2 linked regions of the Homo sapiens genome follow. The protein of the gene in region 1 interacts with the protein of each later gene in a pairwise test. Each region holds a gene or a part of one and is shown on either strand. Other genes may lie near its edges.

Evidence for each region.
Region 2: the proteins of DPCD (region 1) and RUVBL2 interact in binary tests that used the Homo sapiens proteins (3 or more experiments, as listed by UniProt).

The regions. Positions count from the first base shown.
Region 1 is NC_000010.11:101,594,630-101,598,446, reverse strand, and holds part of DPCD (protein DPCD), read right to left. Parts: intron 3,790-3,817; coding exon 3,709-3,789; intron 1,855-3,708; coding exon of another isoform or gene 1,808-1,854; exon of another isoform or gene 433-1,807; intron 1-432. UniProt on the Homo sapiens protein: May play a role in the formation or function of ciliated cells.
Region 2 is NC_000019.10:49,013,633-49,016,741, reverse strand, and holds the end of RUVBL2 (ruvB-like 2), read right to left. Parts: intron 2,259-3,109; coding exon 2,139-2,258; intron 1,722-2,138; coding exon 1,592-1,721; intron 1,171-1,591; coding exon 1,056-1,170; intron 926-1,055; coding exon 900-925; 3' UTR 772-899; downstream 1-771. Other genes in the region: LHB (lutropin subunit beta), read left to right, coding at 1-195, 432-674. UniProt on the Homo sapiens protein: Possesses single-stranded DNA-stimulated ATPase and ATP-dependent DNA helicase (5' to 3') activity; hexamerization is thought to be critical for ATP hydrolysis and adjacent subunits in the ring-like structure contribute to the ATPase activity.

The sequences.
Region 1 (3,817 bases):
TAACTCCAAATCCAGAATTTGAATTATTAATAAAACTTTATTCTGAAAGTGTTCAATAAGCACATGTAATATTTTGAAAGGTTTCTGTTTTTTTTTAAGTAGCTCAATTTATTTTTTATATTTGGCCTTTAAAGGGTAAGCTTTGATTATCTGAAAAAGTAAATTATGAGGACTACCTCACGACCTAGGGCTGGATAAGTGAGGTGCCCCTGTAAGTCATGGGCCTTGCTAAAATGGGTGTCCTAATGCATAATAATGCACCAAGGTGGCCTGGAGGGACGACAACCACCCCAGGGTTTTCTGTGCACTTTTACTCCAAAAAATTTTGAGTTTTACACAGAAAACTTCCCAAGAAGTACTCAAAGAAGGAAGAAAGTCAGCTGCTGATTTCCTTACTTCTGACCTTAAAAACCACTCAGGGAACTTGACACCTCTGGCTGCTTCACCTTTATTTTTTGTTTAAACACCTTGAGAATTAAATTCTTTGTTAGAATGTAGAAGAAAGTCTCCTTTCCCATTCCCTCTAGAGATAAGACCCAATAAAAGATTTTGGGGAAGTCCTTCTTATTTTTCCTATGCACAAGTGCATGGGTGTGAACACACATGTACAAATGCACACTTTGTCTTGTCTTTCTTGCCCCCGTCTTTGTTTCTGAACTCAAGGACGGCTCCTGCGGCAACAGAAGACTGTTTCCATCTGCTGTCACTCTGATTTGATTATATGTTAAACCCAAACTGGTGTGAGGCAGCTTCCCGGGACGCTGTCATATCTTCCCAGCTGAGCCCCAGCCAGACCTTGGAAAAGAGACTTTCCACCCCGGTGAAGAGTCTGATGGGGAATATATAAAGGAGGTGGCGCCTGGGGGCTTTTTCCTAAATCAGCAGGAAGCAGGCTGATGTCCCAGACTGCTGAAAGGAGGCCCCATCTTTCAGGTGGGCTGGAAAGTAGAAGTCCTAAAGGCCTCTTTCCCCAAAGCTCCAAACCCTGGCCCACTTCCAATGTGGATAATTACATTCCCCTTCCCTAAATGTTCCCTGCAGCTTCAACTGGATGCAGGATTCTTCTTTTCTGCCTTAAAACACTGCAACATTGCTATGTGGCAATTAAACAGCTGCCATGTCCCATCCCAGAGGAGGCCGAAGGGAATCGAGTGGGTCATTTATAAAGCCAGTGAAGTGCTTGGGGATGAAAGTGCTCAATATCCTCCAAATGCAGCCTGGGGTGGTTAGGCTGGCGGTCAAATACCAAAGCAGATTAAGTCGGTAATCCGAATGTAATCGCTGGGGGATGGCCTGCCCTTCAGCCTCAGCCCCCTTGGACATGCTGTGTTCTTCTCAGGCTGGTTTGATGTTCCGATCATTGTTGTGGGGCCTTCAGTTTTTTCCTCTATGAATACATGCAGCAATCATTGTGGGGGGTGGGAATGAATAGCACTGAGAGGGTAGGAAAAAAACAGGACACTAACATGCTTATTAACACCGACGGGAGGAACTCTGTCCCAGACTGACGCACACCTATTGGCAATTCTTCCTCTGTAAATTACTTTGAATTTTTCTAACAGAAAACTGGTTTGGCTAATTATCAAATTTGTATACTTAGCTAGAAAAATGGAAACTATTCCTATTTATTGCCACAAAAACCATGTCCCTACTTTACTTCATAGAATGCACAAGCAAAAGCCAGCTCAACCCCTGGGATTATTTATACTTAAAAATTAATAATGGAGAGTATTTTGCCAGGGCAGCAGTGGTGGATAGGAAGAAGAGTAAGAAAAAGATCTGCTGTTCTAGAGCTGGGCCCAGTGGCTCAAGTGAGGTCCTCCTGTCTGCCCATCAGTCCACACTCAGGCCTTTCTGGGGAAAGAAAAACAGTAAGAAGAAAAGAAAGTTGGATTTAAGTGTTCTCAACTCCCAGCACTATGTTGTTGAGGACTAAAGCATGGGCTCTTAATTGGACAGAACTAGGCTTAAATCCTGGCTTAGAAACTAGCTACATAATTCTCAACAAGGTGCTTAACCTCTTTGAGCTTCCATTTTTTCCAAATGTAAAATGGAGACAAGAGTATCTACCTCATAGGGCTTTAACGAGGACGAGTAAATGAGGTAATTCACGTAGAGCACTTAGCATGGTGCCCAGTAAGAGTCACGCTATTAATATCATTATTAGGTCAACTTTAGCCAAACAGTGTTCTCCTGTGAACAGTCTTCTCCATTTCTGCTTTTAAGAAAGAGGAGTTTGGAAGCCATGGTCTATTCCCCACCTGCCACTAGGAGAAGTGACAGGTTAATAAGGGATATCAGGGCACATGGTGCTACAAATGAAGAAACCTGGACTTGTTTTTAATTTCAGTTTCATATCCAAGCACAACAAAGAGGCCTGGGTTTTATTTGTTTGTTTTTACAGCCGCAGCAGCTATAGCTGTTTTATTTGCTCTGTGTGGAGGAGTAGAGAAGTGGCACGGGGGGCTGGGAGTGAGGAGCTGCGGCTATTCTCTGGCCTGGTTATGGTGGTGGCTAGTCCACGTGACCTCTGCTTTCATAAGTTCTCCCCTGTTAGGCATTCCAAGGCTGTCATCCCCTGGGAGCACTATAAATTACAATGCATTGTGAGGATATTACTACTGTATTGGTTTCCACCGAATCAGTGTCATATGCTAAACACATCAAGATTTTTAATAGCACCAGACTAAACCAACTGGGACTGGAGCCCAAGCAGCTCATAATAAGGAGGGATCAACACTTCACTGTGCGACTGAACATGCGCAGGACAAACATTTTAAGACTGGAGACTGAGGGAATGCAAGCCCGTGTAATCCATGTTGTCGGTTCTAGACATTTATGAGCTGTCAGAAAAAAGGAAAAAGAAATTCCCTCACCAATACTACCTGTCGATCAGGCCCAGGAAGAAATTAAAGCCAAGAATAATGACAAGAAAATAAACCAGCCTGTGATTCCATCATTGGTCTTAGCATTTCAGATGGAACTTAATAAAGAGACCAACTCCCACTGCTGACAGCCTTGGGCCCTGGGTCAAAGAGCCAGCCACCTAGCTCTGGGAAGCTGGTTAATGCTGATGTGCACACCTGGGAACAGAGTGGACAAATCAAATAATTCCCAGAAATCTGAGCTGGAGCCCCTACCCATGAGCCTGTTCTTAGAGGAAAGGCGCTGCAGGAATGAAAGTGACCACGCTGCAAAATCACTGTTTTGACCCTCTTTGACTGAGATGTTCTTCAAAATAAGGACCATATTTTATAGTGTTGCCTTTGAGGCAAGCTCAGAAGCTCTGCCTCTGATACTCGCTTGCTCCTGGTGTGGCTTTAGAAAACAAAACAAACAAACAAAAAAACAAGGAAAAACAAATTGTGAAAGTCTGCCCTTATCCCTCCTAAACCTACAAGGCTCACTTCCAATACCACCTCCTCTGTAAAGTTTTTTCCCAACTGTTTCTCTACATCTTAGAATTACTCCCTCTCTCATTTGTCTGGGGTGAGGGGTGGGGATGAATTTTACTGGTCAAAAGGACTCGCATTCCACTTTTGGTGCCCAGATTATGCTCAGGAACGTTGTTGTCTCGAGGGCTTCCGTCTCTCCCAGCCTCTACATTTGATCTGGGCTCCTACCTCAAGCCTAAGGCTAGGAGTGTTCATTGTGCTTATGTCAGCCCCAAGTATTACTAAAGGCCCACTGGGAGCCTCTGTCACTTACCAAGTAGTTCACTCGTCTTCTCGTCATATTCTTCAGCCATTTCCTTGCCGTCTGGGAATAAATAGTGAACCTTCCTTCTCCCTATGCACAAAACAGAGAATGCCTTACC
Region 2 (3,109 bases), on another chromosome or scaffold:
CTGGGTGAAGCAGTGTCCTTGTCCCAGGGGCTGCTGCTGTTGCTGCTGCTGAGCATGGGCGGGGCATGGGCATCCAGGGAGCCGCTTCGGCCATGGTGCCACCCCATCAATGCCATCCTGGCTGTCGAGAAGGAGGGCTGCCCAGTGTGCATCACCGTCAACACCACCATCTGTGCCGGCTACTGCCCCACCATGGTGAGCTGCCTGGGGCCAGGGGCAGATGCTGCCACCTCAGGGCCAGACCCACAGAGGCAGCGGGGGAGGAAGGGTGGTCTGCCTCTCTGGCCTGCGGTTGGGGAATGGGGTGTGGGAAGGCAGGAACAGAGGGCTTCCTGGGCTCCTGAGTCCAGGACCTGTGGGGTCAGCTTGGGAGCTCAGCTGAGGCGCTGGCCTCAGGCACATGCTCATTCCCCCACTCACACGGCCTCCAGATGCGCGTGCTGCAGGCGGTCCTGCCGCCCCTGCCTCAGGTGGTGTGCACCTACCGTGATGTGCGCTTCGAGTCCATCCGGCTCCCTGGCTGCCCGCGTGGTGTGGACCCCGTGGTCTCCTTCCCTGTGGCTCTCAGCTGTCGCTGTGGACCCTGCCGCCGCAGCACCTCTGACTGTGGGGGTCCCAAAGACCACCCCTTGACCTGTGACCACCCCCAACTCTCAGGCCTCCTCTTCCTCTAAAGACCCTCCCCGCAGCCTTCCAAGTCCATCCCGACTCCTGGAGCCCTGACACCCCGATCCTCCCACAATAAAGGCTTCTCAATCCGCACTCTGGAGGTGTCTTTCTGTGGGCTCAGGGCAACCACACATACACAGGGTGGGTGCAGCTTCCCAACCATTTTATACAGAGTCACAGTGTCAGAACTCTGGTGGAAAACAGGGTGGGGTCGGGGGATGACATCCAACTCAGGAGGTGTCCATGGTCTCGCCTTCTGTGGGGAGAAGGAAGGCCACATGGTCAGTGTCGCCCAGGTGGCAGGGCCTGAGCCTTCTACGCCGAGCTCCCTCTTCCTCCCTCTGAGGTTGGCTCTGGCAGTGCAGGTGCGGGGTGGGGATTCTTACTGAGTTCGTTGAAGAGGAAGGCGTCCTGGTACTCCTTCATGTACTGCGTGGAGCGGGACTCGTCCAGGAAGAGTGAGTAGACCCGCTTGATGTCATCCACCTGCACTTCTGTACCCTGGAGGGGGAGGGCGAGTCCTCAGTTGGGCCCCTCTCCGTGAGGCTCAAGGCACAGACCCCAGCGTATGCCACCTCCATGCTCTAGGCAGCAGAGTGTGGCATGTGAGGGGAGGGCATTCTGGGCCAGATTGCCTGGGTTCAAATCCTGCCTGGCCATCTCCTTGTTGTGGGCCCAGCCTCTTCATTCCTCAGTTTCTTTATCTGTAAGGTGGACCTAACAGCATCTACTTAAGTCAAGAGAGATTTACTGATACCTACTATAGGCCAGGCTGGATGATACAGAAGCCAACCTGAGGGATGAAAATTCCCTGCGTCTGAAAACGTACATTCTAGGATGAAATCGGAACCCTGGAAGCCCCTGAAGTACTGTGTCACTCACTGCCGCCATCTGGCCCTGCTGGCTAATTCGGCCGGCTGACCTTGCGTTTCCGGCACACCAAGCTGGCAGCTGTGATGAGCTGGATGGCGTAGCGCAGTGACGTCTCCAGCCCGATGCGGGTCAGCACCGTGTAGGCGTCCTCACTCATCTCCACATCTTCTTCCTCGCACCTGCAAGCAGTGGGGGACAGGGGTGGCTCAGCCGGGGCCCAGCCTCTGACTGCAGCAGAAGTGGCCACAGCAACCCTCTGGCCCTTCCCCACTGGGAATATGTGGCGCCTGCATCTTAGAACCATAGAATGCTGAGGCTAGAAGAGCCACGGAGACAGGGGCTGGGCTGGACCTAAAACCGAGGCCTCCTGACCACCCCCAGGGCGCTGGCCCCAACACCAGTCACGGGTACCTCGCCTCCCTTTCCCACCGTGGCTCCTGCTCCCGGATCGGAGGCCACCGTCTGGGTGCCCGCTCAGCCCTCTCTCCTGTAGGCCCAGCCACCATGCCACTCCGCTGGACCTCAGTGTCAGCATTTGTCAAACAGGGTAGACCCCAGCCCTGCGTCTCAGGCGCACGGCCTGGTCCTGCCCGCACCGGATGCGGAGGATCTGCTTCGTGTCTTTCTCGCTGTAGGGGGTGGTGGAGACGATAAGCAGCCGGTCCAGCAGGTCTATGGGGATGCCGTGAGGGCTCTGGTAGCTGGTGCCCCGGATTCTGAGGAAGAGGCAGAAAGAGGGGGCTGTCAGGGGCATGTTCCCTCTTCATTCCCTTTGCTGGGAACACTCTCACCTCCCATCGCCACCCACTCACTGGGCCCAACACCACTTAACCTTTAGCTCGCGTCTCCTGTCACATGATGACATCACCCCTGATGACGCAGCCTTCCACAGCTGCGTCAGTCCCCCAAGGGCACCTTTCCGCGGAGCTGGGCTGCTTTAAGCTAGATCTCTGCCTCCAGGATTACTGGATCAAGGTCCCACTCCCGTGCTCGACACAAAGCTTCACAAAGGAGGGGACTGCACCTGTCTTGTTCCCTGCTGCAGCGGGGCCAGCCCAGGGCTGGTGCCAGGGGATACAGTCAGTTCCCCTTATTCACAGTAGTGAGGTTCTAGAAAGTCATCGTGAACACTCCAATTAGCTGATCCTGAGCCACTGCTCCTACTGGAATACAGGGTTAGGCTCTCTCGAGCCTCGGCTTACAGTATTTTCATCAATCCATATATATATAATCTGGGTCTATGCGTATTTTCATTTGTGTGTTTCTGGTCTTTTTGGTTTGTTTTTTGAGACGGAGTCTCGCTCTGTTGCGAGGCTGGAGTGCAGTGGCGCGATCTCGGCTCACTGCAACCTCCGCCTCCCGGGTTCAACCGATCCTCCTGCCTCAGCCTCCCAAGTAGCTGGGTCTACAGGCGCACGCCATCACGCCCAGCTAGTTTTTTCTATTTTTAATACAGACAGGGTTTCACCATGTTGGCCGGGACGGTCTCATTCTCTTGACCTCGTGATCCACCCACCTCGGCCTCCCAAAGTGCTGGGATTACAGGTGTGAGCTACCGCGCCTGGCC